Regions from separate parts of the Homo sapiens genome. Here all the other regions are linked to region 1. The links come from fine-mapping of genetic effects on gene expression. A gene starts in region 1. Each other region holds a variant in brackets. All regions are shown on one strand. Distances are between the middles of the regions.

Region 1 (5,000 bases):
AATTAAGTCTAAGGGAAGTTAAGGGGCTTGCTGGGGGCCTGGCTGGCACCAAGCCTGGAACTGGGGGTCTCGGGGACGCCTGGGCGCGCGCCAGCGGGTAGTTTCCCACACGCTTCGCAGCAGCTTCCCCTTCCCGCAAACTCCGCGGGCTGCAGAGACGCTTCCAGCCCTCTGCAGACGTGGAGAGCAAGGGCCGCGGCGACGTGGAGCCTGGCACAAGGCCCGCGGAGCACACACGCCCTTGGGTGGCAGGCGACCCCGCGCCCGGACCCCACGCCCACTCTAGCATCGGTCCCAGAGAAGGTCCCTCCGGGCTGAGGCCAAAGCCAGTGTGCTCCCTCCCCGAGGTGGCGCTACACGGTCCCATCCCCTCTGGACTGCCGAGGCCCTGATCCTCACCTGCCACCCGCCCACTGGAGCTGGGCTAAGGGGTCACCTGCGGCCGTGACCAAGGTCCGTGAGGAAGGTGACAGAAGCCGGGAATCGGAGAGGAACTGGCACCCCCGGGGAGCTCTGTACGCCTGCGCGTGCCGGGCCGCGGCGCGCCTAGTTCTGCTCAGGCCCGATGCAGGAACCCGAGGCCCTGCCCCCAGGCCGGAAATGGGGTTCGTTTCCGGTTCGTCTGCTGTGGGCGGGGCCTGGAGCCCTAGGTGTGAACGCGCACAGGCAACCAGGAGCCGGTAGTTGAGGGGAGCGGACCCTGTACTTGGAAATGGGAACGGAGACTCCACTCCACCTAGCCTGATTCTGTCACTCAGAGGCAATAGGCAAGCCTGTGGCAGATGGGGCGGGTGAAAGGGAGTCGCTTAGGCTATTTTTATTGACCAGCATATCCTAGAAATCAGTGTTTCTATGGATTTGTCTTTGTGTTTATCTGTATTTTGTAAGTTTCTTACCATGCACCTGCAGTACTTGTATAATAAAATTAATGATAAAGATATCAGTGATAGATGGGTGGGTTTAATCCCGAAGTATGAAGGCCCTCTTAGCTCCGCAAGTTAATATCGGCAAACAGAGTGGTTGAATAGGATGATTCTCATGTCTGGGCCATTGCTTACTTGATTTCTTTCTTTCTTGTTTTTGCTTACTTGATTTCTTTCTTTTCTTTTCTTTTTTTTTGACCGACTCTGGCTCTGTCGCCCAGGCTGGAGTGCAGTGGCGCGATCTCGGTTCACTGCAACCTCCGCCTCCCGGGTTCAAGCGATTCTCCTGCCTCAGCCTCCCGAGTAGCTGGGATTACAGGCGCGTGCCACCACGCTGGGCTAAGTTTCGTATTTTTAGTAGAGACGGGGTTTCACTGTGTTGGCCAGGCAGGTCTCGAACTGACCTTGTGATCCACCCTCCTCAGCCTCCCAAAATGCTGGGGTTACAAGCGTGAGCCACCGCGCCCGGCCTGCTCATTTGATTTCTCATGTAATCTCTAAAATTTCATACACTCAACAGATACTCATCCAGCCTTAACTCAATACCACGCGCCTTGCCCAACTGAGCAAAACGAGACCCAACCATTTCCGTCACGGAGATCAATAAAGGGTAGAGGGGAAAGCTAATCACAGAAATGGAGGAAAGGTGCGTGGTCCTGGAAGCCCCGGTGGAACCAGGCTAGCGGCGTGGTTCAGCTATGATGTATTTTGGAGTCCTTGCGATGCCATTTCTGCTGGCCCAAGGCCAGGGCAGGCACTTTGAGCAGGATGCGAAAGAGGGGCAGTCTCTCCACCACAAGTCTTTAGTCTTTGGAGACCTCTAGGAACCCCAGGGCCTTCCCTTCCGACTCCCATTCGGAGGCATATGCAGTCCAGGACCACCAGTGGTGCGGTGCCGGCTTTCATAACCCCATCCTTGGTAGTGCTTTCTTTGCCACACAGTGCTGGGCACCTGCAGAAATGCATTAGGCATGGCCCTGACTTAGGGCACCTTGGGCCGAACCTAAGGGAGTCAGCTCAGGTGCCCATCCTGGCTACCCAATGGACCAATGAGCGCTGCGACTGTGTTACTCAACTTTGCAGCGTCTCATCGGTAAAATGGAAGTGTAACAGCTTATTCATAGGGTTGGATGAAGCTCCTTATGGCAGTGCGTGTGAAGCGCTGGCCCAGCGCTCAGGAACGCCAAGTACATACAAATGACAATACATGGCGGCGCCCAACTACGGCGTGAGCGATTCTTAGATGCGATGGCTAGCTAAGGCTAATCGCCGCTTGCTCCCGACGGCCTGCGCTCGGAGCCGGCCTCCACCCACAGCCGGCCTCCGCGGCCCGCTCCGCCCACCAACTTATTTCCTCTGGGCCGGGTTCTCACCTCCAGGAGTCCCCGCGCTGAGAGCCCGGATGTGAGCCCAAGTGGCCATGCGCACAAGCCAGCGCCGCTGCCATTGGTCGCTGGTGAGGAACAGATTGATGACACATCCGAAAAATAGGAAGTGGCCACTACGGAAGCTGTTCTGGGCCAGAAAGACTTCCAGTTTGGAGTCGTTTGCTGCGGGGAGGGAATGAATGGGCGCTGGGAACACGCCCGCGAGGTGGGGACGCGCCGGCCGTAGCGAGGTCCTTAGCGTGTGAGTGGCCGGGGTCGGGTCGCTTCCCCGCAGCATGGAGGACGATGCACCAGTGATCTACGGGCTGGAGTTCCAGGTGGGTCACTGGGAGGGCGGCAGGTGCTGCTCGGCCTGGCTGTTGATAGCATGCGCGGTCCCATGGTGACTTCGGTTTGCAGATCTCCCACCAGCCCTGCAAGGACCCGTGTCTGTTCCCTAGTTCCCATTTTGCAGAGAAGTAAACTGAGGCTTTAGGAGGTTAAACGGTTGTACTGGATAACAGGGTTGGCCACAGCCGGCCTGCCTCCTTCCCCTTCACATCCTGTCCCGAACATGACTTCTGACCTGGAAGTTATCACTCACTTTGGTGGACTCATTTATTTACACGCCCACCTTTTCCTCTAGAATTTGAGTTCCTGAAGGTAGGAACTGTATGTTGTTTAAAATAAAAATGTTTGATTTTGAAACAATTTAAAGTATTTAGAAGAGTTGTAAAAATACATAGAAAGTTCTTCTTTACCCTCCACCCAGCTTCCCTTAATGTTAACACTTTACATAACCATCGTACATTTATCACAGCTTAGAAATTAACATTGGTACACTAATATTCAGTAAACCACAGACTGTCTTCGGATTCAACTGTTTTCACACTAGTTTTTTACCTTGTATTTTCCAGTGCCTTTTCATGACTGTCACATAGTAGGTGTTCAACAAATGACTATGAACCGAATGAGCCCCCAGAGCATAAGCAATGCACATGGTAGTTCAGGACAGCAAGAAAGCTGCCGTGGATAGAGTAAATGCGTCAGGGGGAATGAGGTAGGGGATGAGATGAGCGGGGGAGGAAGATGAGGATTGTGTAGGGCCTGTTAGAGCCCTGTCCTGGTTTTCATCTATTCAAGTAGCTTTTGAGAATGTGTTATGCCTAAAGCACTGAGGGACAGATAGAGAGATAGAAACACAGTTCACTGCCATATGAAATACTTGATACATAATTTTGTGCAGCAGTATGTGTTAAAGATATAAATGATGTCTGCTTTTTTTTTTTTTTTTTGAGATGGAGTCTTGCTCCGTTGCCCAGGCTAGAGTGCAGTGGCGTGACCTCGGCTCACTGCAACCTCCGCCTCCCGGGTTTAAGTGATTCTCCTGCCTCAACCTCCCAAGTAGCTGGGATTACAGGCACCCGCCACCACGCCCGACTAATTTTTGTATTTTTAGTAGATACGGGGTTTCACCATCTTGGCCTGGCTGGTTTTGAACTCCTGACCTTGTGATCTGCCTGCCTCAGCCTCCCAAAGTGTTGGGATTACAGGCGTGAGCCACCGCACCTGGCCAATGTCTGTTTTTAAGTAGGTTACAGTCAGAGAGGCAGCAGTGTTAGTAGAATAACATATGCCACCCAGACACCTAAGTTTTAAATCCTGCCTCTAGCACTTATTAACTATGTGACCTTGGGCCTCGGTTTCCTTGCCAATAAAATATGCATCTCCCTCCCCCCCACCTCATGGCTGTTATGAAATTAAATGAGTTAATACACTTAATTGAATCACGTAGAACAGTGCCTGGTGCATAGTGTGTTCAATAATTGTTGTTCTAATTGTTATAATGAGAGAAAATTCCTTTTTTTTCCTTTGTAGAAATGGGGTTTCGCCATGTTGCCCAGGCTGGTCTCACACTCCTGAGCTCAAGTGATCTGCCCTCCTTGGCCTCCCAAAGTGCTGGGATTATAGTCATGAGCCACCGCACCCTGCCTAAGACAAAATTCTTACAAATAAATTTTATACAGGGCAGCAGTTAAGTGTCCTGTATAATAAACTGTGCTATAGGATTTGACCAGTGGCTATATCACATTCACAAGACTGATAGCTTAACTACCAGTGATTTAGCTCTGGACTATGTGTCAGACACTCTGCTTAGCACTGTACAAATATTTCATTTAATTCTCACAGCAATCATTATTGGTAGGTGTTATTGTTCCTGTTTTACGGATGAAGAGACAGCCTCAGAGAGAATAGTTACCTGTCCAAGGCCACTTAACTAGTAAATGATAGACCTTGGATTCTGACCTACTTAGACTTTCAACCCAAACTGACCTCGAGTCCCCTTACCTGCTAAGTTCTACTGCTTTCTCTTTAACTAGATACACATAGGGATACACAGGGAGAGACCACATGGGTAGATAGAAGGTTCTATAATCTTGTACTACCTGAAGATGCATACTCTGCCAGTGCTACTTAATTTAACTTCTTGATCTCCTTAAGAAATCTCTCAAAAAACCCAGAGGATTTTATCTTCAGTATTGTATCTTTGAGGTTAACTGAAATGTTATTTTCTTTTTTTTCTCTCTTTTTTTTTTAAATTATTATTATATTTTAAGTTTTAAGGTACATGTGCACAATGTGCCAGTTAGTTACATATGTATACATGTGCCATGCTGGTGTGCTGCACCCATTAACTCGTCATTCAGCA
Region 2 (11,117 bases), 190 kb after region 1:
TCAGCCCCATTGAGGCCTGCGGTGAGGAAGGTAAATGATGCAGGAGTGATTTCAGTCCCGCCCACGGCAGTGCTGGGGAGGCCGTGCAGGTAGGAGCTGCTGGGCAGCGCCAGGCCATGGGTTCTTTGCTCTCCTGGGCGCAGCCTTTTGTTCCAAGCCACTGTCCAGCCTCACTGGATGACCTGCCCTCTGGGATTCATGACATCAGGGCCATAGGCAGGATATTATGACTTCAGACCCTGCGAGGAGCAGCCAAGGACCATAGGATCCAGGGCAAAGTGAGATGTGTGAGTGCGTGTGTGCGTGTCTGCCCTCTCATGCATAGATGTGTGCATGTGTGTGTACATACATGTGTGGGCGTGCACACAGATGCACGCGTGAGTGTGAGAACGCACGCACTGTGAACAGCCGTGTGACTCATTTCAAACAGTCCCCTTCTCCCACCCTGGAGCGAGTGGGTTGCACTGGCCACCAGCAGTGTTGGACCTGGAGCTGGTGTGGACAGTGGAATGGCAAGCCCAGCTGGCATGGTCCTTCCTGCTTTCATGGCCTTCCCCACTGCTCCTCCCTTTCTCTCTCTCTCTCTGTATATATCTATAGATAGATAGATAGCCGGCCCCTTCCTGCTTCCATGGCCTTCCCCACTGCCCCCCCCTTTCTCTCTCTCTCTGTATATATATAGTTCTATATATAGATAGATATTTTGTGTTGTATGTGTATGTATGTATATATATATAAAATTTCCCAACACTATATTCTACCTCAACTCCCTGTCTTTTTCTTTTCCTTCTTCACTGTGTCCTTCCAGAAATGTGTCAGGCATCCTGTCCAAATGTCTGGCTCAGTGTCCCCATGGCTGTTGCAGCCCCTCTGGCATGCTTTCATTCTCAAGATGATACCAAGTCACATTTTTGACGGCTACAAAGCAAAAATTCCTTCCACGGCTCGCCCAGAGGGTCACAGATACGCTTCTGGAGAGATGAGCGTGGTGCGACCACACAGGGTTGCTGGGATGGAGGAGGTGGCGCCAGCCTCTTCCTGCAGGGCAGGAACGCCGAGGGGATGAGAGCACCCTGGGCCGGGGGATTAGACAGGGTCCCGGGAAACCAGTGTGTGCCCGCAGCACGCAGTGGCTTTTCCTAATCCATTTACTATTTTCCTTTGCTGTTCTTCCTTCTCCCTCAGCCAGATCTACTGCATAGAGAATGCCCACGGACAGCTGGTGCGGGACCTTGACTTTAATCCCAATAAGCAGTACTACTTGGCCAGCTGCGGAGACGACTGTAAGGTGAAGTTCTGGGACACCCGAAATGTCACCGAACCCGTGAAGACCCTGGAGGAGCACTCCCACTGGTAGGGCCGCTCCTGGCTGCTTCAGGGAGGAGGGGATTACGCAATTGATTTTGCTAATTACTTTACCATTGGGAAAGACACAAACCAGCTTAGTTTGTGCTGCTGTGAATCATTCAATCAACCCAGTTTTATTTTTCCTAAAGAAACACTAATTCCAAATCTGAATGTTTGTGATTTATAAACGTAGGAAAAGAAGAAAAACATTAAATTCTGTTTTCTCTTGAAACAGTGCTGGTTCAAGTATACAAAAATAAATGTGCACAGATGTTCACGCAACATTATTTGTAATGCCAGAAACCTGGAAACCACCCAAATGTCCATCACTAGGGGACTGGTTAAGTAAATTAGGTGACATCCGTGCAGTGGAGATGATGCAGCTGTCGGGAGAATGTGGAGCATCTCTATGTGGCTGTGGGAAGATCTCTGAGGTCACTCATTCTCCCTAACATATTATTTGAATGTTTTTCATGTGCTGGGTACTTTTTGCTAAGTAAGTAAAAAGATCAAGTTGTACAATGGCATGTATAGCATGAATCCATTTTTATGCAAATAAAACGTGTGTGCACACACGGGTGTACACAAGTGTGAGTGACACAGGTATGTGGAGGAAATGTCTGAAAGAGTAAGAGCCAAAATCTCATCAGGAATCCTCCCCAAGTCAAAGAGGGGCATTCACTCCCTATGGCCTGCATCTCTGTATTGTTTGAATTACTTATCTGAAGCTGTATGTTAAAACCCCGGATTGGTAGTGCACACTTCTGATAAATTCAGTGACTTGCTGGAATTTCCTGTGGTCTGAGTGGCTGGGCCTCCCTGTGCCCCTGGCCATGCTGGGTGCACCTCCTAGCGTCAAGGGCCTGGCACTGTCTGCCACCTGGGCCCTGGAGCTTGTTTTGGCCTCAGCATGACGGGAGGCAGAAGCTCCCAGGCTCTAGGACCCACGCCAGCAAGAAAGCTGATCCCAGTAGCCAAAACCAAGGACAGCCCTTGTGCCCCGGGAGGCCGCCATGCCCTGGTCTCAGGACCCACAGTCACTGCCAACTGGGAAGATGCCGTGAGACTTGTTTGATATTACAGGATATCGCTAATCCACATGTTGCTTCTGGGACAGTATTTTTTTTTTTTTTTCGAATTTTAGAAAGCTTGTCTGAAATGTTGCGTGATAAGCCTTCTCCTCCTGTAGGTTTCAGCCAACATTTAGTCTTCCCTGTCTGTCTCTTGGGACTTAAGAGAAACCTGCAGTAAACCCAACCTCAGCGGAAAACTGCCTTATGTCAGGCCCTGTGACTGGGGGCCGATTGCCTGGCAGTGCCTAACGTGAGCCCCAGCCTAGTGGGGCCCTCAGAGCCGGTGTGATCCATTGTTGGTGTTGCCTGCGGGTGACAGTTCATTTCAGCAGCTGCCTTGCCCTTTGCAGGGTGTGGAACGTCCGCTACAACCACTCTCATGACCAGCTGGTCCTCACGGGCAGCAGTGACAGCAGAGTCATCCTTTCCAACATGGTGTCCATCTCGTCGGAGCCCTTCGGCCACTTGGTAGACGACGATGACATCAGTGACCAGGAGGACCACCGTTCTGAAGAGAAGTAAGGGCACGCACTGCAGAGTGGCTCACGCTGTACCAGAGCCTCCTGTCTGCACAGCCATCTCCCGAGCCAGGCTGTGTATGTAGAAAGTTTCCAGGAGTGCATTTGGGGGACACTCTCCTTACCCACTGCAGCTGTGGGGACTCACAGTTCCAGGGGTGCCGTCATTAGCAGCCCAGGTGGGAGGCACTGCAGGTGCGTTAGGGTTAGGTGCGGTTTTAAAATAGATCTATTTGTGTTTGTATTCTTATTGAATGCCATCTGTAAGATTTAAAAGACTCACTGGTCTTCAAACTTGAGCATGAATAATAATAGAACGAATATATCCCAATCCTCACAGCACTCCCTGTAAGAGACGCATCACAGTCAGTGTCTTCACTGGCGTGGATTTGAGCGTGTTGGGGTCGGGTTGTTGGCCATCAGCTCACGGGCCTTCCACTGGCTGGTAGCAGGGCGGAGACTCCAGGCCAACCTTCCCAGTCTCAAACCCGGGTCCTACTTCACTTCTAGATACTCTACAAAATGTGGTCAACCATGATGTGGGTTTTCTAGTCACACCATCATGGTTCTGGATTTTCCCAAAGCTTTTTCCTATGCACCTTGATTTCTGATCCTAGGTGAGATGGGAGATCGCTAAGGGCAGCCTCTTCATGCCCGCCTCTGGTCAGCGGTGCAGTGCCAGGGCCCCTGTGTCCTTGAGCAGTCCACCTTTAGAAGTGGCAGCCGCTTCCTGGGGGGTGACTAGATGCAATTCAGTTGCAACCGCAGAGATTCTTGCCCCAGGTTCCAGAGGAAGGAGGTTCTGGAATAAAACCTTGTGAAGTTGGACAGAGCCCTTAGATACGATGGGGTCTGTCACTCTGTTTTGGGATCCTTTGCACTGTTTTTTGTCTGAATTCTCCCCCTACCCACCTGAGCTTGGTCTAAAATTCCTCTGTGAGAAGACCTCTTTCTTCAGACCCTCTCTGCAGTGGCGATGGGACCATCTGATTGTCTCTGTCTTCGGACCCTCTCTGCAGTGGGGATGGGCCCATCTGATTGTCTCTGTCTTCAGACCCTCTCTGCAGTGGCGATGGGCCCATCTGATTGTCTCTGTCTTCGGACCCTCTCTGCAGTGGCGATGGGCCCATCTGATTGTCTCTGTCTTCAGACCCTCTCTGCAGTGGCGATGGGCCCATCTGATTGTCTCTGTCTTCAGACCCTCTCTGCAGTGGCGATGGGCCCATCTGATTGTCTCTGTCTTTGGACCCTTTCTGCAGTGGCGATGGGCCCATCTGTTTGTCTCTTGACTCTGTTGCCTTTGTTTTGTTTTTGAGACAAACAAAAACAAACAAAAAAGTCACCCAAGCTGGTGTGCAGTGGCACGATCATGGCTCACTGCAGCCTTGACCTCCTGGGCTCAGGTGATCCTCTCACCTCAGCCTCTCAAGTAGCTGAGACAACAGGCCCATGGCACCATGTCTGGCTAACTTTTTGTAGAGACAGAGTTTTGCCATGTTGCCCAAGCTGGTCTCAAACTCCTGAGCTCAAGTGATCTGCCCACTTCAGCCTCCCAAAGTGCTAGGATTACAGGCATGAGCCAGACTCTGTTGTTTTTCTGTTCAAACCTTAGAAACTCGGTCTGCCATAGAATAGTATTTAAGCACACGCACGGTAGCATCTGCCCAGTGGTCTCTCGGTGCCTGTGGGCCTGGCTCCCTTTACCGTCCTCTCTGCCAGTGGCCCAGGGAGTCTGCACTTCCTCACCATGTCTGTCCCTGTTAGGGGAGGAGCCTGATGGGCCCGTTGGTCGGAAGACTGCTGGCGTTGTCTTCTGGGCGGCAATGTCATGGGAGCAAGATAGGAAGGGAGGAGGTGATCGGGGCTACGCAGACTTCTTAGGACATCCCTCAGTCCTGATGTCCTGCTGCATTCAGGAAACCATGATTCCTCCTAAGGATTTGCACCTGGCATTTGTCCCACAACAGCAGTTGACCACTGGCAGGTCCACTTTGTGGGAAGCCAGCTTCCCAGAGACCATGCGAGTTCTGGAGGGTCCGTCTTGCTGGGGGGGTGAAGCATTTTCCTACAAAGAAATGCAAAAGCAGTTAGAATGCGGTACACAAATTATGTGGGAATTTTTTTGTGAAATGGGAAGTAAAGTGCCAGAGAAGCCTGTGTCCACCGGAAAGTGGCCGCTGTGAGCCGGGCAGGGCCCCCTCCCCATGCACGCTGTGCTGAGGAAGTGGTGCTTCTTGTGTGAGGATCCCCTGGTCAGGGCTCCCAGTGAGGGTAACTCACAGTCAAGGGAGGCGAGGTGGGAAACACCCTGGGGGAGGCCAGGCAGGTCACGCCTCTGCTGCTCCCACAGGGCCAGGGCGTCTTCCTCTTGGTGTCCTGGGGGATCCTCAGCCCAGCCCCACTCCCATCCTAGCAAGGCTCCTTGTGCCCCAGCCTCTGACTCCTACACAGCCAGGAGCTGGACCCGCTGCTTCCCAGGGTCCTTTCTGCTCAAGCAATAGGGGCGTTTACATCCTGTGTTACCCAGACACGGTGACTACTTCCCCCAGTCTTTCCCCTGAGCTAAAGGAAGCCCTTGGAAGACCTCCAACAAAATATCAACCCAGGCACCCGGGGGCCAAGGACAGAAGAAACCAAGACACCATGTGCCAATGTCGCCGATTTCCATAAACCTTTTGAGAAATGCCCACTCCTCACAGTGACAGTGAGGGTTTCTGGGCTTCTGCAGGGACCACCCCACCGTCCTCGGTGTGGGCTCCTCTAATTCTTCCCATCCCACAGCGGAGAAAGCTGAGGCCCCAGTACCTCCCGTGTCTCCCGATGTCAGCGCTCGCGTCCTCCCTGCCCCTCTCCTGCCCGCCCCGCCGGAGCTGCTGCGCTCACGTCTGCCTCTGTTGCATTGCAGGAGCAAGGAGCCCCTGCAGGACAACGTGATCGCCACCTACGAGGAGCACGAGGACAGCGTCTATGCCGTGGACTGGTCCTCGGCTGACCCGTGGCTGTTTGCCTCCCTGAGCTATGACGGGAGGCTCGTGATCAACAGGGTGCCCAGGGCCCTGAAGTACCACATCCTGCTATGACTCCCGGGCCTGGGTTATCCAGGTCCCATTGAGTGGTTTTCCTCTTGGCAGATTCTCAAACAGT[C/T]GCAGCTCTTTGGAGGTGACTCGTGTTCCAGGTGGATCCCTCTCTGGGAGAGCCGCTGTTCCCTTCCTGTAGCAGCAGCATTTATGAATGGGGTGAATGGGGCTATTGTCGACGGCACAGCTAATGCCCGAACCCAGCCCCTGTCGGCAGAGACAGAGCCCCACATTATTATGTGAATAACAATGTTTTCTGTTTTAAGGGTGTCAGGAGTTTCGCTTTTTAAAAAAATGTCTGTTCCTGCAATAGTAACTCTTCTTTCTCTTGAGAGTAAAAAATGAAATAAAATAAATCCACGCTGCACAGGTGCTCGGCTCATTCTTTCAGGAGCTCTGCCCTGTGACCCCATCTCCTGGGTCTTTGTCCATTTTCTCTTTCCTGACCCAGGGAAAATGCAGATGGACAGACGTGTGCTGTCTACGCCGCCCTAGCATGGAACTCCCGGGAGCCATGCTGGCTGCTGGTGGGCACCTGGCTCGCGCCCTGGGCTGAGCTGGTGTGATGCATTTTCACTGCTGTAGACGCAGGCTCTGCCCGCCCTGGGCCTCCCCTGGTCTCTGCAGCCCATCCTGTGCTGTGTCCTGCCCACCTTGTGAGCCGGGCAGGGCCTCCTCCCCACGCGCACGCACTGGTGGCCTTGGAGGTGCCGTCCTCCCTCACCTCGGAGCTTGGGGTTGGGCTCCCGCGTCTCAGTTGTCGGGGACCCCTCACAGGCTCCTACACTCATCAGTGCTTATCCTTAGGAATCCTCAAACACTGACCTCGCAGCCTCTGTTCGTGGTTCCTTTGGGTGTGCGGGGTCTGTTCTCTGTGTCTGGTGCGTGTTCCCACTGGAGAAGCCACCTGGGCCCTGGACTCTGGGCTCCATCTCCCTTAGGCCTCCACCTGGCCAGGTGTCCCCGCAGGGGCCACTTCTGCGCTCTGCTGCCCCGATCACCTCATCTGTAATGATGGGGAAGGATGGGCTGAGCTCACAGGCCCATCAGCTCTGGGGTTTGACGATTCTAGGACAAGTCTTGCCCGACCTGCAAAAAGGACACGTTCCTGCTGCAGCGCCCCCGCCAGTAGGTGTACCGTGCTGCTAAGGACGCTCTGCACCCAGAGGGCCGCATCCTGGATTTTCCTTTCATAGATGAGAGTTCACAGCGAAGTGGAGGCCATAGGGGGAGAGGTGAAAAGGTGGGGTCCTGGGCGAGGGGACAAGTATGGGGGGGTCCACAGGTGGGGGCTGTAGGGAGGGGTGCACAGCTGGGTGGGGCTGTTGGGAGAGGCAAGCAGGTGAGTGGGGAGTGGGGAGGGGAACGCAGGTCGGGGGGCCGTGGGAAGAGGCACGCTGGTTGGGGGGCCGTGGGGAGGGGTGCACAGGTGGGTGAGGAGTGGGGAGGGGAATGCAGGTGGGTGGGGCTGTGGGGAGGGGCACGCTGGTTGGGGGGCCGTGGGGAGGGGTGCATAGGTGGGTGAGGAGTGGGGAGGGGAATGCAGGTGGGTGGGGCTGTGGGGAGGGGCACGCTGGTGGGGAGGCCGTGGGGAGGGGTGCGCAGGTGGGGAGTCAGGAGGGGCGTGCAGGTGGGGGGGCCATGGGGAGAGGCATGCTGGTTGGGGGGCCATGGGGAGGGGTGCACAGGTGGATGAGGAGTGGGGAGGGGAATGCAGGTGGGTGGGGCCGTGGGGAGAGGCACGCTGGTGGGGAGGCCATGGGGAGGGGCACGCTGGTGGGTGGGGAGTGGGGAGGGGCGCACTGGTGGGTGGGGGGTGGGGAGTGGGGAGGGGCACACAGGTGGGTGGGACCGTGGGGAGGGGCGTGCTGGTGGGGGGGGCATGGGGAGGGGCAAGCTGGTACGGGGGGCCTTGGGGAGGGGTGTGCTGGTGGGGAGTGGGGGTGGACAGAGACAGGTGTGTTGCAGACCCTCCAGCATTTCTGCTTCCAGGTAAAACCTGCACGTGTGAGGAATGTGTGGCATTGTAATGTCAGTCCTCCCTTCAGTTGCTGTCACTTGAAAGAAAATGTGTTTGTTTAACAAACATAAATTGAGTGCCTACTGTGTACCCACACTTCTAGATCCTGCTGTTGCTGCAGCCACAGCTGTGATTAGGGCAAGTCTCAGCTCCCCTGGAGTGAGTGCTCCTGTGGGCCATCAGGTGACATGGGGACAGATGCCACAGGGGAGTGTAGAGGAGGGGCCAGGGAGCGCTGTGGGAGCGAGGCTCTCTGAGAAGGCGATGCGTGAGCCAAGGCCCAGGGTTGGGGTGGGGTGGCACCTGGGTGAGTGGATCAGGTAGGGAGGCAGCTGGGCTGGCATGGGAATGAGGCAGGAGGCCCAGCCATGGGGAACTGGAGGTCCTGCCTTTTTGAGACGGAAGCCACTGAACAGGTGAGGACTGAAGTTTAGAGTTTGGATGGTTTACTGCCTTTGATTGGCACACAGCCGCCAGTGTGTGTGCGTTGTGTGTGTGCAATGGTGAGGCCACTGTGCACCCGGTGGCTGGCTTCTCATGAGTTTAACACACACTCACCACACCAGTCAGCCCTCACGTCTTTACCCTGGATCCTTTTCGAGAAAGGATCTGGAAAGTAAACATTTTAGACTTTGAGGGCCACAGTCACTGTCCATGTTCCTCTCTGTGGTTGTCCTGCCAGACACACACCATGAGTTTACAAAGACAGGCGGTGGATGGATGTGGCCTGGGGCCTGTTTGCCAATGCCAGCCCCAGAAAATAAAACTTATGTTTGCATAAATACCTATACACAGATATTTCTACCCAGGCATAATCACCAAGTGCTGGAAGCAACACAAGCGTCCTTCAATGGTGAACGGATGGCAGGGCCCCCAGAAGACCACAGGAAAGTCGTGTAGAGAAGACGTTCAGGTGAGCTCTGGGACGAGGAATCTTCAGAGGAGGCGAAGATTCCTCTGAATCCTCCTTCAGAGGAGGCGAAGATTCCTCTGAATCCTCCTTCAGAGGAGGCGAAGATTCCTCTGAATCCTCCTTCAGAGGAGTCTGGGGGTGGGAGGGCACAGGGCATGGGGTATCCAGGAGCCAAGCAAAGTGTTGGTTTCCGGGAGAAGGACTGAGGCACCCTCAATGCTGCAGATGGGGCGTCAGATGTGGGGGAGAACGAGCTGGAGATGGACACGGACATGGAGGTGTGGATGGCCCTGGGGAGGCCCCCTGGCAGCTGGTGGATGGCAGGAGCGGCGTGGACAGCAGGAGCAGCATGAACTGCAGGAGCGGCACGGGATAAGAGAGGTAGGAAGCTGGGAGCGGGAGGGGCTGTGTAAAGGAAACAACAGGAGGAGTAGCCCCCCAGGGCCTGTGACCACAAGGAGCTTTCTATTTCTTTCTTTTTTTTTTTTTTTATTGAGACGGAGTTTTGCTCTGTCGCCCAGGCTGGAGTGCAGTGGCGCAATTTTGGCTCACTGCAACCTCCGCCTCCCAGGTTCAAGCAATTCTCCTGCCTCAGCCTCCAGAGTAGCTGGGATTACAGGCATGCGCCACCACACCGGGCTAATTTTTGTAGAGATGGGGTTTCACCTTGTTGGCCAGGCTGGTCTCAAACTCCTGACCTCAGGTGATCTGCCCACCTCAGCCTCCCAAAAGTGCTGGGATTACAGACGTGAGCCACCGCGCCCGGCTGAGGATCTCTCTCTTTAAGAAGGAGAAATATCTGTGTTTCTGAATGCGGATAGACTAGTCCAGTGGAGAAGCACAGAGGGGGGAGAAGGGATATCCTGGAATAGGAAGGCGAGGGTGTGATCTGGTGAGCAACTCCAGATGAACAGGGTGAGAGGTTCCGTTAGAGAAAGCGAGTGTGCCCCAGGACAGCACCACGTGGGACCCAATGCCATCATCAGTGCGGCCATCGTCAGTGTGGCCATCGCCAGTGCGGCCATTGCCAGTGCGGCCATCATCAGTGTGGCCACGGTTTGGGCGTCATCAACAGTACTTCTATTTGTAAAATGCACACACATTCAAACACAGGACATAGTTTTATCTTAAGGACCCCTTGTAAACAGAGCAAGCATCCCCCTTCTGAGGATTTTGAAACAGGCTAGGGGCACCTTGCCCGGCTCTGTCCACCGACCGGGGCATAGGCCATGTCCCCTTCATGCAAGTCTCTCAGGCTCTGCCTCCAGCAATTCTTACCCATAGGCAGCCCAGTGACCTCTAGGTGACTGGTTGGACAGCTGGAACAGTTAGGATGCAGCCATGCAGAGACTTTGGGGTTCATCACCAGCATCCTTTGTTGCCCATGCCATTTTCAGAGCTAAGCCTGCATCCCTGTGCGTGGGGTGGTGGAGGGGCTGCACTGGACACCCCTGCGCGTGGGATGGTGGAGGGGCTGCACTGGACACCCCTGCGCGTGGTGTGGTGGAGGGGCTGCACTGGACACCCCTGCGCGTGGGGTGGTGGAGGGGCTGCACTGGACACCCCTGCGCGTGGGGTGGTGGAGGGGCTGCACTGGACACCCCTGCGCGTGGGGTGGTGGAGGGGCTGCACTGGACACCCCTGCGCGTGGGGTGGTGGAGGGGCTGCACTGGACACCCCTGCGCGTGGGGTGGTGGAGGGGCTGCACTGGACACCCCTGCGCGTGGGGTGGTGGAGGGGCTGCACTGGACACCCCTGCGCGTGGGGTGGTGGAGGGGCTGTGCTGGACAAGCCTCCTGTATAGATGGGGTTCTTCCCTCCTTTACACAGAAGCTGTGTTGAAGGTGATGGGATTACATGTGGACCTTCTTTACCAGGACCTGGGGGGCTGGGAATATGGGGAAAGAAGTCAGCCTCGACCCGTCCTCCTGGCCCCTCTGTGCAGTGTCAGGTGCTGTGCGGTGTCGCCTGTGGCTGTGGACGGCAGCGTCAGTGCCAGAAAAGATGAATGTCATCCATGGTGTGCCCTGGCCGGGGCCTGACTTACCTCGGCACGTGTCCAGCTGCACAAAGCAGGGTCATTAGTAACCCACTTTCCCCGCAGGCGCCTCTGCAGCATGGGCCTGGCAGGGCTAAACTGAGAATCCAGGAGCTGTGTGAGATTGGGAG
Region 3 (11,117 bases), 120 kb after region 1:
GCTTTATTGAGGGCAACGTGGATATAGTTAAGGAGTTTGGTGAGCTGGCGTTTACAGGAAAGTCACTTTCTTTACACCTGAACAGAATTCTCCAAAGAAGGAACTTGTTGGGGATGTGGGGGGGAGTGTCTGCCATTAGTCATTTCTTCCACAGAATAGCTGTTTTTACTATTCCCTGCCTTTGTCATCTTGTGTATTTCATTCATTTTGAAGTGCAGCCACAATTTAGTGCTCCCATTATTAGTTCTATAACTTGTAAGATTAGACATGTATTTTTCTACCATTTAGAAAGATTAAGATAATCTACACCTCTGTTGGGTTAGTGTGTGCTAGTGGGTTAGGCATTCATTTTTTTCTTTCCTACTCCAAATTGCCAACTTTCCCTTTGGTTATTTTTGTGTTTCCAGGAGTGCCATTGCCAATCTCGTGGGCTCTGCAGAAAGATCGTGTAACTGAAAATTTCAGCAAATAAATAAATAAATAAATAAATAAAATTCCCTTGTAGACAGAACTGTCTGTACACTCCATTTTTGTAAAGTTGGAAGTGTGAACATTATATGAATATATGATGGAGTTTTTTTTCTTTAAGCCATAATTGCATGTTCTTTTAGACCCAATATGGTATATAAAATGGTCACTGAATTTGGAATCAGAAAATCCTGGTTGAAGTCTTAATCTTTTAACTTCTTATCATTCAATCATGGTTAACAATGGTATTAATAATATTCACAAAGTTAGATATTTTGTCATTGAGTTCGTTGCTATATTGCTTGGTCGATTAGTTGATATTGAGATCGCAAGAGCATCATCACCAGTAAGTGATACATTTTCGATTGTAACCTAAGGTCGTTGTTATTTTGTAATGCCATGCTGTTTTCCTTCTTGTACTACCCATGAAATGTTTTTTTATGTTCTAACGCAATATATAATATTTTTATGTTCTTCACTTGTTATCAATTGATGATTTAATGTTGAATCCTGTTTGCTAGTTTATGATTATTCATTAAAGGCCATCTTTAAAAGGGAGAGGTGTTTAGCACATATTCAATTGAAAACTAAATGGAAAGCAAATTCTGAAAGGATTTATGTTCAAGAATTCAATGTTAAATCTAATTTTTAAAAAATTTATCATATTGAGAAATTTTCTAGAGCATCAGAGACCTTCCTTGGAAACAAGTGACCCCAGTCTTTCTAATGCAGGTTGAGTCTCTATCCACAAAGTGGCTTTTCTAGGTACTCTAGATTCCTGGAGCATCTTGAAAATAGAGTATCAAGACTCAGGGAGACCGAGCAGCCACCAGCAGGATCGTGTAAGGATGGCACTCTCATTTCTAGGAGAAGAGGCTGTATTGATGGTGACATGACCAGGCTGGGCTGCCACCTGCTGCCCACCAGGGCTCCAGGCCTCAGCATGCGATGCCTCTGAATGGCATTACCTTCCGGTCCCAGATACTCATCACTTTAGGTAAACTGAGGCAGAATAACATGCGTGACAGGATTTCCGAATGGAATATCGCTCAGTGTGCCTAATAGTCATTTAAGGTGATCTCATACAGCTATGGAGAGAAAACCCGTTTAATGCCAACCTTAGACACCAGCTGCGTGCGTGGTGATTATATCTTTAGTCCCCCATTTTGCTCCCTTTTTTGAAGAACTATTGAAGAAGAACGGAAGGAAATCGATTTTGAGGAAATTAAATTTTCTTTTGAAACAGCATGATGGTTTTTAAAACAAAGAGAAAGTGGGGAACAGGATGCTGATTACGAACCGTGCCGGGTTCTGCCTGCCGACTCAGGCTGTGCTTCTCCCTGCTCCGTCTTTGCTGCCTGCAATCGTACATATTTTAAAGAGCAGATGCGCGCTGCTTATGGATTTGTGTAAATGTGCGTGTGCTGTCTGCAGAATGCGGGGCACACCGTGCTCTGTTGACATTATCCATTATGCTCTGTTGCTCAGCTTCAGACAGCAAAGTCCTGACATGTGCAGCCGTGTGGAGGATGCCGAAGGAATTGGAATCAGGCAGCCACGAGTCCCCTGATGATTCATCCAGCACTGCACAGACCCTGGAGCTGCTCTGTCACCTTGACAACACAGCCCATGGCAACATGGCCTGGTAGGATTTTGCATATTTCATG[C/T]GCCCAGAACGAGCCTGCAGGTTGGCCAGGTGCAGGAGCTTGTGCAGATTCCTTTGCAGGAGCCACCGTCCACACCTCGGAAACGCTCCTTTCTTTTAAAAAGCTGCGAGAATTTGATTTTTAATTTTAGTCCCTGTGTTTTCTAGATTAGCCGCATTGACAGAAATGTAGCCAGCGCGCCTGCATCCCCACTTTCTCCTCTTCATCTAAGAGGAGTGTTGCCCGTGGGGACCTGCCAGAGGGTAAAGGGTCAGGCACTGCACTGCCCTCGAGCGCTGTGTGGCTTTTCAGCTTGGTCAGCATGCACTTATTCACACTCACATGGCAATTATTTACCACTTCAGGTTGAGGCTTACAATCCCTTCCTCCCGTGGACAAAGCATGAATGCGTGGTGTGCCTGTGGGGCTGCGTGCCCAAGCCCGCCCGTGTCCGGCATGTGGTGTGTCATTCACGTGGCTCCCTGGCCAGTCGCTGCTTCATGAGCTTGGAGGCCTGGCTGTGTGCACCCACTGGTCATTCCCAGGGACCTCTCCACGGCAGTCACAGCTGCTCTCTGAAGGCCCTGAGGCCTTGGTAAAAATTAAGAAGCCGTATTTTCTAAAGGAGATTGCGGGGGCATACTGTTGTTATGAGTGTTTACAATAACGATAGTGATTGTTTTACTTAATGCATTAACACATACACATGTGCGTGTGTGTCTGCAAGAGACAAATCGTTTGTACAGTGACTTCTGTCTCGTCAGTTCTACCAATTAAATAAATTTAATACAACAAATACTTATTAAATACCTGCTACAGAAACCCTGCCAGGCTCCAGGGACACCAAGGTGACAAGTTAGAGGGCCCGGCCTCCGAGAGTCATGATCTCCACGGGGAGACCCAGGGTGTACACAACTAACTGTGGCTGGGCCAGCCGTGGCGTACCCCGAAATCATTACGAACTGTACGCTGTGGCCCCGGAAGGAGCAGCCATTAATTGTTATTAGAGGAATTGAAGAGGGATTCGCTTACGAGGTGGAGTTTGGAACGGGGACTGAGGACCGACTCAGGTTTCCCTCGTCAGGTATGGAGGAGAGCAGTGCTGAGGGTCAGGCAGTCTGTGGCTCCGGATGCTCTCTGTGTATCAGTTTGTGGTGGAATTATTTTTATACTTGCTGTGCTTCTACCACGTCGGTGGATATTTCTTCTTACGGAGATGCTCTGAGTATTAAAATCACAGCCAGTCTTGCACAGTAAGGGGAGGCAGATGAAGAGTCCCAAAGTCCCCAGGAGTGATTGCCACTGCTGTCACTCCCCGCCCGAATGCAGGATCTCTGTGCAAACCACACAGCACTGTTAGGAGTTCCACATTTCAAATGATTGCCACATCCCCAGCAAATAGACATTTGTGCGCATGTGTGTGATGCACATGTGCACACATTTGTGCTTGTGTCTCTGTGCACACGTATGTGTGCACATTTGTGTATGTGTTAATGTGTGTACACGTTGCAGGAGACACCGGCACCAGGGAGCAGATGAGTGAGACTCTGCGCAGGTCAGTGGTCACGTTAGGGAGGTTAGCATGTGTAGCGGATGGCAGTCCTGCTGGGATGTGCAGAGACAGGTGAGCTCAGAAAAGGGACCTTGGCCCTGCCTGGGGACAAGGAGCTGTCAGACTGCTTCTCAACTTCCCACCTTGTGCAGACACTGTATGCAAAGACAGGCCACATGGGTGTGTGTCATGGGGAACTGATTATTAGATTGTAATGTTAAATTGCATCATACCTACATAGACTTATGAAAATAGTTGTTGAAGGTGGGGTGCAGTGGCTCACACCTGTAATCCCAGCACTTTGGGAGGCCAAGGTGGGTGGATCACCTGAGGTCAGGAGTTCGAGACCAGCCTGGCCAACATGGTGAAACCCCATCTCTGCTAAAAATACAAAAATTAGCCGTGTGTGGTGGCACGTGCCTGTAGTCCCAGCTATTTGGGCAGCTGAGGCAGAAGAATCACTTGAATCTGGGAGGCGGAGGTTGCAGTGAGCTGAGATCAGGCTACTGCACTCCAGCCTGGGTGAGAGAGACTCCGTCTAAAAAAAAAAAAAAAGAAAGTAAGAAAGTAATTGTTGATATTAAACAGGCAAATTCAACTATCCTCAGATCTACCTTGGAATGCCATTTGCTCTGATTTTGCCTCTGTTGTTCAAAGTATTGCTTGAATTCCATTTTGTTATCCAATATATTATTGCATATTCTTTTTTCTCTTAAGCTTTTTATTTTGAGGTTGTACATTCACATATAGTTATAGGAGTAACAGAGAGATCCCGTGTATCCTTCAGCCAGTTTTCCCCAATAGTAACACTGCATAACTATGGTACTGTATCACAAACAGGAAACTGGCATTGATACAGCCCACTGAACTTACACAGATTCCTCCTGTTTATATGCATTCGTGTGTGAACATTGACATCTGTGCCATTTATTGTGTGTGTGGGTTCGTGTAGCCACCACCAGAGTCAAGACACAGAACAACTCCAACCCTGGGTCCCTTGTGCTATGTTATATTTATAACCACAGCCACCTCCCTTCCGCCTCCAAGGCCTTAGCCCCTGGCCACCCCGAATCTGTACTCTATCTCTGTATTGTTATTTGGAGAAGGTTCTATAAATGGAATCACCCACAGTGTAACCTTTAATAACTGATGTTCTTTACTCGGCTTGATTCCCTGGAGGTTGAGTTGCTGCTTCATTTTCAAGTTTGGGTTCCAGCCACCATGCGTGCTGGTCAGTGGCTGGTTCCTCTTTGCTGCGGCGGGATATCCCATGGCATGACGCACCACGGTTTGTTAAGCACTTGCCTGTTGAAGCTCATCTGGGTTTTTCCTTGTTTTTGGCGATTATGACTACAGTTGCGGTAAGTATTAATGAACAGGTTTTTGTATGAACAGGAAGTTTTATTTCTCTCGGCTCAGTTAGTTTTGTGTGGAGCTGCTGCACGTGTGATGCCATGACAGAGCGTGAGGGCTCCTCCTCTCTGCGTCCTCCCCAGCATTTGGTGTCATCATGCGTGTTCTTTTAAGTGTCTTCCATGGTGTGAAAGTGTTATGATTAGATAGGGAATTTGATTTGGGGGAACGTCGGTCTGGTGAATACGGCACAGGTGAAGGCTGCCCTTTGGGGTCAGGCTCCAGGTGCTTGGTGGTGGTTTTGTTTGCCTCCTTTTGGCATATAATTGGCACCAAGAACAGCTCCAGGAGATGTTTACTGCACAAAGCTTCTGGCCACCTGGGAGTGCCCGAGAATGCCACACGGTTCCCCACACTCACGTCGCTACCACTCCAGCTGCCATCACGCCTGCCATGGGTGCTCCCTGCAGACTAGAGGCATGCCCCACACCGCAGGAAATGGTGTTAGGGGCTCCTGTCCTCCTGGCCATTTCAGCTTTTGCCTGTCTGGAGCAATCTGATGTCCTAATTTCCATCACCCCTCCTGTGTCTGTCTCAGCACTCCAACAAGCAGAGGCTGAACAGGGCACCCCACCAGTCGCCTTTAGCTCCTGCTAGTGGGAACAGCGAAGGCTAAGGAAGGAACTTATAGAGCCTTATGACCCAGTGTGCCCCCCAGAACACTAATCAGACATGCTCCAGAGCCAGGCAGCCTATGGAAGCAGACAGAGACTAGCTGGGAAGTACTGAGTCCGGTTTCTCGTCCTCACCCACTCCTCGGGAGCAGTAGGGTCTTTAGGAAGTCACTCATTTCTCTAGCTCAAACCTTCATCCCTGAAACGGCGATGACGTTGCTCAGCTGATGGTTGTGTGGCAGGGCCTCTACATGGTGTCCACCAAGAGTCCAGTTCTGTAAAATATTTGAAGAGATTTATTCTGAGCTGAATATGAGTGACCACGGCCCTCAGGGGGTCCTGGGAACATGTGCCCAAGGTGGTCGGGGCGCAGCTTGGTTTTATACGTTTTAGGGAGTCATGAGACATCAATCAAATACATTTAAGAAATACATGGGTTTGGTCCAGAAAGGGGGGACAACTCGAAGCAGGAGGCTTCCAGACTGTAGGTAAATTTAAACATTTTCTGGTTAACAATTGGTTGAATTTGTCTAAAGACCTGAGATCAACTGAAAGGGATGCCTGGGTTAGGAAAAAGGACCGTGGAGACTCAAGTTCTTATTGCAGAGGAAACTTCAGGTGGCAGCTTCCGAGAGAACAGGCTATAAAATGTTTCCTATCAGACTTAAAGCCTGTGTCGATGTTGATGCCAGAGAGGTAGAATGAGGCACGTCCGATCCCCACTTCCCATCATGGCCTAAAACAGCCTTTGAGGTTAAATTTTAAAAGAGCCCTGGCTAGGGAGAAAGTCCGTTCAGATGGGTGGGGTTCTTAGAGTTTTTTATTTCTGATTTACAGTGGAAATGTGTCCCTTACTATATTTGCTAAGGAAGATCCTAAAAACAAGGCAGTGCCGGGGTTCCTGTAAGGGCCCCTCAGGTCCCCGCCAGCCCTGGTGCTCTGCAGCTCTGCCCGGCAGGGATGGAGCCCCTGAGCTGGCCTTAGAGGACCTGCCCCATCACCAGCCCCACTTAGACGCTCCTGTCTCAGCCTCGCCTGGTTAACCCTTCCCTCTCAAGTCACCATGCTCTGCCCCACCCTGTGATTTCTTGCCATTTTGCCCAATTTTTTGTTTTTGTTTTTGTTTTGGAGATGGAATCGCCCTCTGTCACCCAGGCTGGAGTGCAGTGGCATGATTTCAGCTCACTGCAACCTCTGTCTCCCGGGTTCAAGCAATTCTCTTGCCTCAGCCTCCTGAGTAGCTGGGATTACAGGCACCCACCACCACGCCTGGCTAATTTTTGTATTTTTAGTAGAGACGGGGTTTTGCCATATTGGCCAGGCTGGTCTTGAACTCCTGACCTCAGGTGATCCGCCCACCTCAGCCTCCGAAAGTGCTGAGATTACAGGTGTGAGCTGTTGCACGTGGCCCGTTTTGCCGTTTTATCTTCGTAGGAGTTGCCGCTGCTCAGTACTCCCGTCTCTGTTCTCACTCACGTGTGGTGTTCTCTGTGGACGCTGAGCCTCTGCAGAAGCTGCTGACTTTGTCAGGTCCGAGGCTGTGTCCTCAGCACCAAGGACAGCACAGGGCGGACACTCCGCGTATTTGAGTGAGAAAATGAATGCTTTGCAACAACCATATCGTATTGAACCGTTCTGTGAACGAGGCCCCTTTGCTAGGGCTTTGCATGCATTACCTCACTCATGCAAATCCTGTAAAGTAGGGACTGTCCTTTCCCATGGCCCCAAGAGATTAAGGTAAAGGTATCTGGAATTACTCACTCCTACAGAGGGAGTATTCAGGATTCATAGCCAGAAGTCTCGCCCCAGAACTCCAGAAACACTGGGATCACCTCCCTGTTGAATGAACAGAAGGAGCCATTTGTGTTCCTCACAGTGTGATTATGAAATTGTCTCTGTTCCTGGGAATATAAATGTATCTTCATGACAGTAAGCGTTGAGGATGTTTCAGTATTTCTAGCTGGTCCTTTTGGTTGATAAACATTAATAAAGTATGCTGTATATGGGAATTAAGCATTTTGAAAATAACAAAATGCCCTTCTTTTTAAACCTGCTTTCCCCTCTCTACCTCTGGTTTGCTTCTTCGTCAGCTATAGTGACTTGTGGGAGAGATGGTGGACTTCAAGGCAGCAGACCTAGGGTGGCGGGCTCTCGTTTCAGATTTACAGGTAGTTATTTGTAGTGTTCCAACTTTGGGCAAGTCATTTCTGTTGAGGCCTTGTTCCCTTGTGTGTGGAGTGGGGGTGGTTGTGGGGCCTCGGATTCTTTCCAGTTCTACGTTTATTAGATGTAGAGGACATTTATTTATTTGTTTATTAGATGCAGAGTCTACATTTATTGACTGTTGCTCAGTGCCACATCACTTTGTTTTTAATGAATCAAAAATAAATTACAGACCCTCTTCCCACCCTCCCTTTAGCCTCACAGTGGCTGACACCCCTGCTACTCCAGCCAAGGCAGCCTGCCTCAGGAGTAGGAACTTACAGAGGGCACGGCCGCAGTCTTCTCGCTGAAAAGGACTTTGGAAATCATTCAGATGAGTTCCCTCTGTGGATGAAGTCAGTTCAGCAGACCGCTGGCCGCCTGGGTGGAATTGAACTGAACACTCCCTTGGGGGTGCTTTTATCAAATTATGCCCATCTAGTGTAATGTTTTAACTATTTTTCAGTATATCTCACACTGTTATATTTTATTTTATGTGTGTTAGCTGCCTCTGTTAGTCTGTTTGCATTGCTATAAAGGAATACTGAGACTGGATAATTTATTAAAAAAAAAAAGAGGTTTATTTGGCTCAGGGTTCTGCAGGCTATATAAGCATGGTACCAGCATCTGCTCTTGGTGAGGCTTTAGGAAACTTACAACCATCGTGGAAGGTGAAGGGGGAGCCAGGACATCACTTGTTAGGAGAAAGAAGCAGCTGCCAGACTCTTTTAAACAAGCGAATCTTGTGGGAACTAACTGAGCGAGAAGACTCAGTCATCACCAAGGGACGGGTGCTCAGCCTTTCATGAGGGATCCGCCCCTGTGGTCCAGTACCTCCCACTAGGCCATGCCTCCAACATTGGGATCACATTTCCACATGAGATTTGGAGGGGACTAACATTCAAACCATACCATTCTGCTTCTGCCCTCAAAGAGCTCATGTCCTTCTCACATCACAAAATTCAATCATCTCTTTCCAGTAGTCCCCCAAGGTCTTAACTTGTTCCAGCCCCAACTCAAAAATCCAAAGTCTCATTTGAGACTCAAGGTATGGGCTGTAAAATGAAAATCAAGTTATTTACTTTCAAATTACAATGGGGGTGCAGGCATTAGGTAAACATTTTCATTCCAAAAGGAAGAAATCAGCCAAAACAGAGGGGCAGCAGGCCCCATGCACGTCTGAAACCTGGCAGGAAAGGTATTAAATGTTAAAGCTCCAACACTGACTCCATGTCCTACGTCCAGGGCACACTGGTGTGAGGATTGGGCTCCCAAAACCCTGGCCAGCTGTCCCCATGGCTGCCTGCATGGGTTGGAGTCAAGTGCTTTTGGTTTTTCCAGGCTCAGGATGCAAGCTGCTTCTGGCTCTACCATTCTTGGGCCTGGAGGGCAGAAGGTTCCTTCCTACAGCTCCACTAGGCAGTGTCCTAATGGGGACTCTGTGGGGACTTCAACCTCACATTTCCCCTAAGCATTACCCTAGTGCAGTCTCTCTGCAGTGGCTCCACCCCTGTGGCAGTCTTCTGCCTGGGCACCCAGGCTTTCCCATGTATCCCATGAAATCTAGGGGAAGCTGCCAAGCTTCTTTCACTCCTGCATTCTATGTACCCACAGACTTAGCACCATGTGGAAGTTGCCAGGGCATATAGCTTGCACCTGCCGGAACTGTACCTATGGCCCCTTTGAGCCATGACTGGAGCTAGATGCAGGGAGCAGTGTCCTGAGGCTGCACAAGGAAGTGGGGCCCCGGGCCTGGCCTTGGAAACCATTATTTCCTCCTGGGCCTTTGGACCTTGGATGGGAGGGGCTTTCCCCCTCCCAAGATGCCTGAGATGTCTTCAAGGCCTTTTTCCCATTGTCTTGACTATTAGTGCTTGGTTCCTTTTTAGTCATGCAAATCTCTCTAGTAAGTGGTTGCTCCACAGCCCTCTTGGATTCTTCCCCTGAAAATCCTCTTTGCTTCTTTTCTACATGGCCAGGTTGTGACTTTTCCAAACATTATGCTTTGATTCCCTTCTAAACATAAATACCAACTTTAAGTCATTTATTTGCTCCTGTATCTGATTGTAGGCTGTTAGAAGCAGCCAGGCTACCTCTTGAATACGTTGCTTCTGAGAAATGTCTTCTGCCAGATACTCTAGGTCATTTCTTTTAAGTTCAAACTTCCACAGATTCCCAGGGAATGGACACAATGCAGCCAAGCTCTTTGCTAAGGCATTAACAAGGGTGACCTTTGCTCCAGTTTCAAATAGCTTCCTCATTTCCATCTGAGACCTCATCAGGCCTTCACTGTCCATATTTCTATAAGCATTTTGGCTACAATCACTCAATAAGTCTCTAAGAAATTCCAAACTTTTTCTCATCTTGCTTTCTTTTTCTGAGCCCTCCAAATTCCTTCAACCTCCGCTCGTTACCCAGTCTCAAAGCTGCTCCACATTTTCAAGCATCTTCGTAGCAATGCTCCCCTCCTCAGTACCTATTTAATGTGTTAGTCCATTTTTGTATTGCTATAGGGAAATACATGAGACTGAGTAATTTATAAAAAAAGAGGTTTATTTGGCTCACAGTTCCACAGGCTGTACAGGAAGCATGGCAGCAGCATCTGTTCCTGGTGATTCTTTAGGAAACTTACAATCATTGTGGAAGGTGAAAGGGGCCCAGTGCATCACATGGTGAGAATAGGAGCAAGAGAGAGAATGGGGAAGTCCCAGACTCTTTATTTTTAATTTAATTTAGTTTTCTTTTTTTTAGACAGTCTCACTTTGTCGCCCAGTCTGGAGTGTCATGGTGCCATCTTGGCTCACTGCAACCTCTGCCTCCGCCTTCCAGTATAAGTGATTCTCCTGCCTCAGCCCCCTGAGTAGCTGGGATTACAGGTGCCCACCATCACGCCCGGCTAGTTTTTTTGTTTTTTTTCTTTTTCGAGACGGAGTCTTGGTCTGTTGCCCAGGCTGGAGTGCAGTGGTGCAGTCTCGGCTCACTGCAGCCTCTTCCGCCAGGGTTCCAGTGATTGTCCTGCCTCAGCCTCCTGGGTAGCTGGGATTACAGGCGCCCACCACCACGCCTGGCTAATTTTTGTACTTTTAGTAGAGACAGCGTTTTGCCATGTTGGCCAGGCTGGTCTCGAACTCCTGACCTCAGGTGATCCACCCGCCTTGGCCTCCCAAAGTGCTAGGATTACAGGCGTGTGCCACCGCACCCAGCTCATGCCCGGCTAGTTTT

Which allele goes with the higher level. Positions count from the first base shown, and alleles are read on the strand shown. Sizes are in standard deviations (SD) of each study's normalised expression. Not every link is listed here.
With allele T in place of C in region 2, the expression in monocytes after LPS of the gene that starts at base 2,458 in region 1 is lower (moderate effect, 0.50 SD a copy in Fairfax 2014).

What was found. PIP is the estimated chance that this variant, and not a neighbour inherited with it, causes the effect. A credible set is the group of variants that fine-mapping cannot tell apart.
Region 2: its variant is the best candidate, but not a certain one, in a credible set for the expression of EIPR1 in monocytes after LPS (Fairfax 2014, PIP 0.82).
Region 3: its variant is the best candidate, but not a certain one, in a credible set for the expression of EIPR1 in whole blood (TOPMed, PIP 0.88).

What each region holds. Positions count from the first base shown.
Region 1 is chr2:3,375,276-3,380,275 of GRCh38, reverse strand. It overlaps EIPR1 (EARP complex and GARP complex interacting protein 1), which reads left to right and starts at 2,458. Exons shown (of 9, transcript NM_003310.5): 1 at 2,458-2,628. The coding sequence starts at 2,587. TRAPPC12 (trafficking protein particle complex subunit 12) reads right to left here and starts at 582. Exons shown (of 12, transcript NM_016030.6): 1 at 400-582. RefSeq lists silencers at 562-611, 2,175-2,234 and enhancers at 1,100-1,616, 1,617-2,133, 2,405-2,454, 2,475-2,654, 2,675-2,954.
Region 2 is chr2:3,184,235-3,195,351 of GRCh38, reverse strand. It overlaps EIPR1 (EARP complex and GARP complex interacting protein 1), which reads left to right. Exons shown (of 9, transcript NM_003310.5): 7 at 1,186-1,353; 8 at 2,771-2,938; 9 at 5,844-6,382. The coding sequence ends at 6,018. It overlaps LOC107985840 (a long non-coding RNA gene), which reads left to right and starts at 7,984. Exons shown (of 4, transcript XR_001739257.1): 1 at 7,984-8,948; 2 at 9,174-9,329. The variant C/T (reference allele first, on the strand shown) is at 6,083.
Region 3 is chr2:3,248,295-3,259,411 of GRCh38, reverse strand. EIPR1 (EARP complex and GARP complex interacting protein 1) reads left to right here. Exons shown (of 9, transcript NM_003310.5): 4 at 1,957-2,113. Among named protein-coding and RNA genes, the nearest start is that of EIPR1, 120 kb to the left of the region's middle. RefSeq lists enhancers at 4,744-4,873, 4,884-4,933 and a silencer at 7,020-7,314. The variant C/T (reference allele first, on the strand shown) is at 2,136.